Linked DNA regions of Homo sapiens: region 2 is linked to region 1. A link means that fine-mapping ties the variant in region 1 to the expression of a gene that starts in the linked region. Tissue or cell type: prefrontal cortex. Region 1 holds a variant in brackets; the other region holds the start of a gene. All regions are shown on one strand. Distances are from middle to middle.

Evidence for each region. PIP is the estimated chance that this variant, and not a neighbour inherited with it, causes the effect.
Region 2: GLDC starts here. The variant in region 1 is fine-mapped to the expression of GLDC in prefrontal cortex (BrainSeq, PIP 0.95).

What each region holds. Positions count from the first base shown.
Region 1 is chr9:6,529,894-6,535,096 of GRCh38, reverse strand. It overlaps GLDC (glycine decarboxylase), which reads left to right. Exons shown (of 25, transcript NM_000170.3): 24 at 309-389; 25 at 1,937-2,630. The coding sequence ends at 2,080. Among named protein-coding and RNA genes, the nearest start is that of GLDC, 110 kb to the left of the region's middle. The variant C/T (reference allele first, on the strand shown) is at 2,553.
Region 2 is chr9:6,643,328-6,648,456 of GRCh38, reverse strand. It overlaps GLDC (glycine decarboxylase), which reads left to right and starts at 2,728. Exons shown (of 25, transcript NM_000170.3): 1 at 2,728-3,212; 2 at 3,765-3,843. The coding sequence starts at 2,958. RefSeq lists enhancers at 1-178, 179-734, 1,721-1,820, 1,871-1,980, 2,961-3,518 and silencers at 2,651-2,900, 2,971-3,170, 3,211-3,280.

The sequences.
Region 1 (5,203 bases):
GGTTAGCACTGGGATGGGGATATACAGGCAGCACCAAACGTGTAGGTAATTTTTTCTAAAAGATGAAGCAAATATGACAGAATGCTCATTAGACTTTACTGGGTGGTGGATGTGATGATTATTACCATAACGTTCTGATATTTAAAATATTTCACAATTATAAATCACATTGTACCCCCCTAAATTGAAAGAAAACAACAGCTTTCTCTGCCTGGGCTCCTGTCAGAAGATTGACGGTTGAGGTGCAGGGTAGGAGGAGAAGAGAGTGTATTGCTCTGACCCCTCCTCTGTCCGTGTCTCTGTCTCAGATGTCTCCACACTCCCTGACCTGCGTTACATCTTCCCACTGGGACCGGCCTTATTCCAGAGAGGTGGCAGCATTCCCACTCGTAAGTTCTCTGAATCTGAATGTGCCAGCTGGGAAGGCATGGGCCAGCTCCTATCCTGACGGGTGTACGCTCTTAGCCTCATGATTACAGAAACCATATGTGGGGCACCTTGTGAAATAAGGGTCTTGAAGAGGAATGAGGAGCAAAGAAATTGGCTTTCAGAGGCGAGGTCACACAGTATCAACCACAGATCTGGGAACCCATAGGGAACAGAGTGGGGGAAAACTGAATACGAGTCCTGCCCAGTGGACCAATGTGTTTCCCTCCACTGTGGGACAGGGAGATGGCGCCCAGTGCAACCTTCCTTTCCTTTCTGATTCTTATATGGAGGAGAAGGTTCTGTGTAGTCTGTTTGAGTGAGGTAGGGAGAAGGCTAAAAATGTGCCAAATTATGCTATGTGCTGTTTATGGATCTATGCAGTAATAGTATAAAAACATAATGAGAATGGTAAATCCTGTATTCATTGGAGAGGAGAGGAAACAAAATGATGCTTTTTTTTTCTTTCTTTTTTTTTTTTTTTTTTTGAGACGGAGTCTCGCTCTGTTGCCCAGGCTGGAGTGCAGTGGCATGATCCTGGGTTCACGCCATTCTCCTACCTCAGCCTCCCGCTGGGACTACAGGCGCCTGCCACCATGCCCGGGTAATTTTTTGTATTTTTAGTAGAGACGGGGTTTCACTGTGTTAGCCAGGAAGGTCTTGATCTCCTGAACTCGTGATCCGCCCACCCCGGCCTCCCAAAGTGCTGGGATTACAGGCGTGAGCCATCACGCCCAGCTGATGCTTTTTTTTTAATCGTTCAAATTTTTATTTTAATACACAGTATGAGAAATTAACTTTTTTTTTTTTTTGAGATAGAGTTTTACTCTTGTTGTCCAGGCTGGAGTGCAATGGCACCATCTCGGCTCACCACAACCTCTGCCTCCCAGGTTAAAGCGATTCTCCTACCTTAGCCTCCCAAGTAACTGGGATTACAGGCATGTGCCACCATGCCTGGCTAATTTTGCATTTTTAGTAGAGATGGGGTTTCTCCATGTCGATCAGGCTGGTCTCGAACCTCTGACCTCAGCTGATCTGCCTGCCTTGGCCTCCCAAAGTTCTGGGATTAAAGGCACGAGCCACTGCGCCCAGCCGAGAAATTAACTTTTAAATCAACTGAATTGTATGGAAAATGACATAGCAAATAAATTAGACCTATGTTAAAAGAGAAGGTCAGCTAAATATCCAAACTTAAGGATATAATGGGCAGATAAACATAGATTCCAAAGTCTTCTTTAAGCAGTTGAAGTCTTTCAAACACAACTTTGCTATAAACTGGTCCAGATATCAACAGCACATAGGGATGCTTAACAGGGGTGGTGATCAGGGACACGCCTCCTGGGAAATGCCTCTTTTTTTTAAATGGTAATGTAGGGTTGGATTTTAGGTTCTCAGAATATTTGCTGGGCTGATGGTGTCTTAGGTTGTGGGACTAGCATTGCCACCTCCTTTGCCCTAAGAGAAACCTCCCAGAACATCTCACAGCATTTCCATCTTTTGTCCTTTGCAGCCCTTCGTGAAACCAGAGAACAAATTCTGGCCAACGATTGCCCGGATTGATGACATATATGGAGATCAGCACCTGGTTTGTACCTGCCCACCCATGGAAGTTTATGAGTCTCCATTTTCTGAACAAAAGAGGGCGTCTTCTTAGTCCTCTGTCCCTAAGTTTAAAGGACTGATTTGATGCCTCTCCCCAGAGCATTTGATAAGCAAGAAAGATTTCATCTCCCACCCCAGCCTCAAGTAGGAGTTTTATATACTGTGTATATCTCTGTAATCTCTGTCAAGGTAAATGTAAATACAGTAGCTGGAGGGAGTCGAAGCTGATGGTTGGAAGACGGATTTGCTTTGGTATTCTGCTTCCACATGTGCCAGTTGCCTGGATTGGGAGCCATTTTGTGTTTTGCGTAGAAAGTTTTAGGAACTTTAACTTTTAATGTGGCAAGTTTGCAGATGTCATAGAGGCTATCCTGGAGACTTAATAGACATTTTTTTGTTCCAAAAGAGTCCATGTGGACTGTGCCATCTGTGGGAAATCCCAGGGCAAATGTTTACATTTTGTATACCCTGAAGAACTCTTTTTCCTCTAATATGCCTAATCTGTAATCACATTTCTGAGTGTT[C/T]TCCTCTTTTTCTGTGTGAGGTTTTTTTTTTTTTAATCTGCATTTATTAGTATTCTAATAAAAGCATCTTGATCGGAAGAATGCCTTTCTCTTGGTGTACTTTATAGTTTTACCACCGTTACAACCTAGATTCAGTGGGAGCTGAAGGGCAATGAGAACACCCAACCCAATAGCCATTGTTACATCATCAGTTTTGCCTTCGACTGGCTGAAGAAACAGTTGTCTTGGTCAACAGTGAAAACCACTTTGACCCTTTTTGTTGGAACTGAGTTAGAGTGCATGTAACTGTACTCCAGCTATGGAAGGTCAATCAAATAGCAATTTATCTTTTCTCATTTAAGTCCAGAGGTAATAAGCCAAGCACTGGTGCTCCTTCAGTTTTCCCGCTCTGCCCTCCTTTGCATAAAATTTTCATCCGCATGGTCTCAAGAAGGCTGTTGCATTTCCAGGCGTCTGACATACCCATTCTAGTTAGGATTAAAAGGGAAGAGCAAAGGCCAGGCGCGGTGGCTCATGCCTGTAATCCCAGCACTTTGGGAGGCTGAGGCGGGAGGATCACCTGAGGTCAGGAGTTGGAGACCAGCCTGGCCAACATGGTGAAACCCCATCTCTACTAAAAATACAAAAAATTAGCCGGGCATGGTGGTGCATACCTGTAGTCCCAGCTACTTGGGAGGCTGAGGTGGGAGAATTGCTTGAACCTGGGAGGCAGAGGTTGCAGTGAGCTGAGATTGCACCACTGCACTCCAGCCTGGGCAACAGAGTGAGACCTTGTCTCAAAAAAAAAAAAAAAAGAAGAGCAAAAGGCAGCTTCCACCCAAATCTGCTTCTTTTGAAATGTTTTCGAATATGTTCCACTCAGTAACTGCTGCAGCTGGCCAAAATTGGTTCAAATCTCACTCCCAGCTACAAGAAAGTGTGGGGAAGTCTGTTACCTGGGCATGTGACTGCCCCAAACAAAATCAGGAGTATGTTAATTTTTAAAAAGGTGGGGAGAATGGGTTTTAGGTTGGCAACTAGCATGCCTGCCACAAATGACTTTGCCTTAGAAGTAGCAAATGCTCTAATCATGACTACTTGGTTTCTTGCATGGCTGCTTCCTCCAACATTACTTAGTATCCCTAGGCTTTAATGCTAGTGATCTGGGTGCTCTATTGAATTATCTGCAAGTATTCCACTTATTTTTATATTTAAAAAGTTTATACAACAATTTACTTTAGCCTAACAAAGCAGTACAGAAGTGATGGGATTCACGGTTCCTTTTTTACACAATAATTAAATGATATCTATTAAATAGTGCATCTCAGGTATCAGGCAATTTTTTTTTTTTTTTTTTTTTTTTTTGAGACAGAGTCTCATTCTTGTCACCCAGGCTGGAGTGCATTGGTGCAATCTCGGCTCACTGCAACCTCTACCTCCCAGGTTCAAGTGATTCTCCTGCCTCAGTCTCCTGAGTAGCTGGGATTACAGGTGCCCACCACGAGGCCCAGCTAATTTGTGTACTTTTAGTAGATACGGGGTTTTGCCATGTTGGCCAGGCTGGTCTCGAACTCCTAACCTCAGGCCTCCAACTCCTGACCTCAGCCTCTCAAAGTGCTGGGATTACAGGCGTGAGTCACCATGCCCAGCTTGGTATTCTTTTAAGTGTTTGAAATACTACCTCATTTGACCCTCACAATGTTCCACTCTTACACATGTGGGGAAGGGTATGAAGAGATGCCTAAAGTCCCACTACCAGCCAGTAAGAGGGAGGGGCAGAATTTGGACCCAGCCTTACTGGCTCCAGTACCTATCAGCCAAAACAGGATACCCTGCTGCCATGGCAACTGCAGACCTGGGGACTCTGCCCTTCCTGAGTTGGAAACCCTGCTTAGTGCAAGCTAGCCATCAGGCCCTGGGACGGCCCCTTCCTAGGAAGGACAAGTGTATGACAGTAAATAATGGAAGCAAACAGCAATTCTTTTCTACTTACTTTACACAGTGTTTGTAGTTGAGTGCCAAGGTTGTTTCCATGGCTATTATCCATTACTTGCCCCCAGAACATAGCAGAGCCAAACATAGGCGATTAAGAGTCAAGTGAATCACTTGTCCTTCACTATTAATTGCTCATGTGTTACCTAACACTTGTGCCAGTCTTTCCCTGCCCCGGATCTTATCCTGAAAGGCACTGCCCCTTGAAGCCCTGTCCCCAGTCACCTTGCTTTACTAGTCATTCTCTGTATTTCATCCTAGCCATTTTCTGTATTTCATCATTTCAAAAATACCTTCTTCATATCCCCATGAAATAGGCTTTCTCTGTTATCTTCTATCTTGCCCCTTGGTTTGTTTCCTCCTGTACCCTGGGCACAACTGGTAATTTTTTTTTTTTTTTTTTTAACAGAGTCTTGCTCTTTTGCCCAGGCTGGAGTGCAGTGGCACGATCTCGGCTCACTGCAAGCTCCACCTGCCGGGTTCACACCATTCTCCTGCCTCAGCCTCCTGAGTTGCTGGGACTACAGGCGCCCACCACCACGCCTGGCTAATTTTTTGTATTTTTAGTAAAGGCGGGTTTCACCATGTTAGCCAGGATGGTCTCGATCTCCTGACCTCGTGATTCGCCCGCCTCGGCCTCCCAAAATGCTGGGATTACAGGCATGAGCCACCGCGCCCGG
Region 2 (5,129 bases), 110 kb before region 1:
CCCAAGACTTTAGGAGTTGCAGGCCAGGAAATGGGATGAATACCAGATATGTATTTCACAACATCACACAGACAAATAAACAAAAAACACTCAATGCATTTCAAGCAGAGGAGAATTAAATGTCAGGAATGGGTGCATACAAAACCACTGGAAGAACTGGAAGAGCAAAAACCAGGGAATACCAACGCTATCTTCAGGTCAACCACTGAAGCTCTAGTCTAGTACACAGAAATTCCTGCTGGGGAACTGCAGGACATTCCCATTGGTGGATACAGCTTCCCAGCTACCTCAAGATGGGGTGCTGGTAAGGAAGCATGTCATGTCTGCAGTGGTCCATGCATCTGTCTGCTGCAGTCAGAAAATAAGAAAACAGTTTTTACCTTTGTTCCATTTCCCAATTCTCTCTCTCTCTCTTTTTTTTTTTTTAGGCAGAGTCTTGCTCTATCACCCAGGTTGGAGTGCAGTGGTGCGCTCTCCGCTCACTGCAACCTCTGTTTCCCAGGTTCAAGTGATTCTCATGCCTTAGCCTCCTGAGTAGCTAGGACTACAAGCACGCCCACCAAACTTGGCTAAATTTTTTTTCATATTTGTAGTAGAGATTGAGTTTCGCCATCTTGGCCAAGCTGGTCTTGAACTCCTGTCCTCAAGTGACCTGCCCGCCTCGGCCTCCCAAAGTGCTGGGATTACAGGAGTGAGCCACCGCACCCGGCCCCAATTCTCATATACATATATGTGTGTATATATACATGTTTTTTTTTGGCAGAAGGCAAATAACATCCATCACCACGGAGCCAAAGGGATCTGGGAATTATTGTTCCCTGGCTTCCAGTCCCTCTGATACATAGAAACAACATAGACAGGAATAGGAATAAATGCAGATTACCTCCTCCCTCCAATCCTTCCCCACAACCCCCACCATCTGGCACTGAGGAGATCTCCCAACTTTTATGAAGGTTGTAATTTCAATTCCAAATGGCCGAAAAACTTTTCGGAGACATTCAGCCCAGCCGTCCTAGCTCACCACCCGCCTCCGTCTGCCATACAGACATTTTACCTACTGTTCTTTGTGGTGTATTTTCCTGCCCTCTTTTCCATCTCTACTTTCCTGCCTCTCTGGATAGTCTGTGCCTCCTGGGTACGGAGCCCAGAATCTGTTAAGGGTGATTGGAGGAGGAAACTTAGCAGATAAGCAAGAAAGAGAACAGGTTTTATTTTCCCCTAGTCTAAGTACAAGTAATGTTCTGATTACTTCTGTCCTCTCTTCCCCATATTAGAACAACTGGAATTTTAAAAGTTCATTCTCTTGCTAAAACTGTCATGAGACAGCTGGAGATGGTACATTTACAAAAAATCCAGTTCTAGATGGCTAACTTTCAAAGTAAGACGACAGTGAACAATGTCTATCTTAATATCCTTTGTACTTTTGCTGGGCGCAGTGGCTCACGCCTGTAATGACGGATCACGAGGTCAGGAGATCGAGACCATCCTGCCTAAAACGGTGAAACCCCGTCTCTACTAAAAATAAAAATAAAAAATGGCCGGCCGTGGTGGCACGTGCCTGTAGTCCCAGCTACTCAGGAGCCTGAGGCAGGACAATCGCTTGAACCCGGGAGGTGGAGGTTGCAGTGAGCCAAGATCGCGCCACTGCACTCCAGCCAGGGCGACAGAGCGAGATTCCGTCTCAAAAACAACAACAAAATATCCTTTGTAGTTTTACACACACACGTATATGTATATACAGTACATATATTTAAAAAAACATATACACACACACACACAGTTCTTTTTTTTTTTTTTTTCCTGAGTCTCGTTCTGTGGCCCACGCTGGAGTGCAGTGGTGCGATCACATCTCACTGCAGCCTGAAACTCCCTGACTCAAGCAATCCTCCCACCTCAGCCTCCAGAGTAGCTGGGACTTCAGAAGCACGCAACCACGCCCCACTAATTTTTGTATTTTTTGTAGAGACAGGGTTTCACAATGCTGCCCAAGCTGGTCTCGAACTCCTGGGCTCAAGCTATCCTACCGCGTCGGTTTCCGAAAGTGTTGCGATTACAGGCGTGAGCCATAGCGTTACATGTGGTGGGGGGGAAGAGAGAGAAAGAGAGAGAGTGAGAAGAAGGAGGAGGAGGAGGAGGAGGAGAAAGAAGGAAGAAAGAAAAGAAAAGAAATATAGAGAGGGTGTTCAAATCTACTGTTCAAGTGCTTTCCATGTACATATAATCTCTTTTTAAAATCCCATCCAGCTCTGTTGAGATGAGAAAACTGAAGCTCTGAGAGGTTGAGTAACTTTATCACGCTCCCGCAAAGATAAAAGAACCGCCATCTGCCCATATTAATTTCCCTGAGATGAAATGTGACAGAGAAAGATACCTCAAAATTAAGGAAATGGAGAGCTTCGAGAATCATCTTCCATCTCCGCCGAGTCCCCCAGGAACTTGGCCCGGAGTCTTTGGGCTGTCCCACCTGATCTTGCCCCAGTGCGGCTCCACACCCTGGCGGGCGGCGTACGGAGCGTCCCGGCCCCCGGCACCAGCCAGCGTCGGAGTGGGTAGGACTGGAGATGGCAGCCTCCGGTCCAGGGGAAGCGGGACTCCACGGAAGGGCTGGGAAGAGGGTAGGAAGAGGGGGCGGGGGCGGGAACTGTTCCGCCCCCTCCCCCTCTGTCTACTTTCATTGGCCAAGGGCTTCCTGGCCCCAACCCACCTCCCGCCTCCAGGGCGCCGCTTAAAGTGTGCGGAGCAGGTGCCTTGGGTGGAGCCACAACTTTGCGCGAGTGTCTTGGTTGAGCGCAGCGCCCATTCATTGCCCGCGAGCGTCCATCCATCTGTCCGGCCGACTGTCCAGCGAAAGGGGCTCCAGGCCGGGCGCAGCCGCCACCCGGGGGACCGAGGCCAGGAGAGGGGCCAAGAGCGCGGCTGACCCTTGCGGGCCGGGGCAGGGGACGGTGGCCGCGGCCATGCAGTCCTGTGCCAGGGCGTGGGGGCTGCGCCTGGGCCGCGGGGTCGGGGGCGGCCGCCGCCTGGCTGGGGGATCGGGGCCGTGCTGGGCGCCGCGGAGCCGGGACAGCAGCAGTGGCGGCGGGGACAGCGCCGCGGCTGGGGCCTCGCGCCTCCTGGAGCGCCTTCTGCCCAGACACGACGACTTCGCTCGGAGGCACATCGGCCCTGGGGACAAAGACCAGAGAGAGATGCTGCAGACCTTGGGGCTGGCGGTAAGGACCTCCACCCGGCCCTCCGCGGCCTCCCCTCCGCCCTGCCCGGGCTCTGCCTGCGCGGCCTCCCGGCTCCTACCCTGAGCTCTGCTGCGCTCCGCGTGGTCCCCGCACCCTGGGTCCCGGGCCGTGGCGTGGAAGCAAATTCGTGCCTTTGGTCCTCGTGCCTTCTTACTTCTTAACAGCTTACTTTCTCCTGCACCCAGTCTTCGTGCCTCAAAAGTGTACATTTTTAAACCACCCCCAGCCCAAGTGGCCCTGTGGATGGACCTAAACTTTGCAAGAGGAGGAAGACCCCCTGATTAAGAGTGGGCTTACCGGTTAGCTCCGGTTGCAACTGAAATCCAACCCCGAGTGGCGGAATCTCCACCCCACTTCACGATTTTCTTTCCTCCAAATCATTCTGGCTTGCTCAGAGTTTTCCTTTTCTTTTAAAAAGAACCCTAATTAGGCGATTTCAATGAGGTTCCCACAAGGCTTTGTAGTCGCAAAACACAGAGGTGACTCTTTTAACTCAGAGGCACTTTCCTCTGCCTTGCGTTTTAATTTTAGAGCATTGATGAATTGATCGAGAAGACGGTCCCTGCCAACATCCGTTTGAAAAGACCCTTGAAAATGGAAGACCCTGTTTGTAAGTGGCCGGGAGGGCTCCCTTGGACTTAGATTATTCTGGCCTATTTGTCTTTTGTGGTTCCCTGAAAATCGAGCTCTGGGGTAAGGATTGCTCAGGACTGGGAATGTGTGGATTAAAATAAAACAGTGGCGGGTACCTCCGGAGCCGCGGGAAGGTGGGATATTTGGTTCTCGGAGCAGACAGTTTTGTGTTAGGAGAGAGTCGGTGTTGTGCGGTTCTTGGTCTTTATCCTAGGGCCCCCGCGAGCTTCCCCTGCGTTTTGTAGCAGATTCCCCACTTCCCAGGCACCCTCTCACCGGCCAGGGTGCTCTCATACTTTGGGTTGAGAGGTGTCATTACCTGCGCAGACCCGGATAGACTCAAAGGATCTAGGAATTGCCTAAGGTCGTGCAACTGGGGAAGTGACCAGACATCTCGCCTCCCTCCCCCAGGCTTCTTTAGATCGCAGTATCTTCCAATTGTTTTCTTACCTCACGTCCAAATTTTATTATTTACCAACTGAAAGACAGCAGTACTTTTCGAGTCCGAATGGTTTTTCTTTTCTTTTCTTTTTTTTTTCGTTTTTTTTTTTTTTTTTTTTTGAGACAGAATCTCTGTCGCCCAGGCTGGAGTGCTGTGGCTTGATCTCGGCTCACTGCAACCTCCGCCTCCCTGGTTCAAGCAATTCTCCTGCCTCAGCCTCTTGACTAGCTGGGATTACAGGGGCGCACCACCACACCAGGCTCATTTTTATATTTTTATTAGAGACAGGGTTTCTTCATGTTGGCCAGGCTGGTGTCGAACTCCTGACCTCAGGCAATCCGTCTGCCTCGGCCTCCCAAAATGCTGGGATTACAGGCACGAGTCACTGTGCCCTACCCCGAATGGTTTTTCTAGAAAAACACACAAATAAGATTTACATTTGTTTAAGAAAGGTCAGTTTAGTCATAGACTTTCTTAGAATTTTATTTTAGGTTTAAAATATTTTTAATGGTCCAAGATTGCTTTTCAGGGGTATTTTTATGTGGGTATTTGACTTCCATGGGGTGGGGGGACAATCCATAAGTCAAGGGCACAGGCTGAGCTCTTAAAAAAAATCTCATCTGGTTATCTCACTTTCAATCATGGAGATACTTATCTCTTTTTCTTCTAGAGTCAAATGAAGAGAGAGCAGCTGTTTTATTTTGTTGCTATGATAGAAAGGATCTAGTGTGCAGATGGCAAGCTTTATTTTGTTTGAAGGTGGACATTTGAGGTATGGAGCCTATCTGCTTCAGGTTGGCTGCTCAGGCTATGCTGAGGGC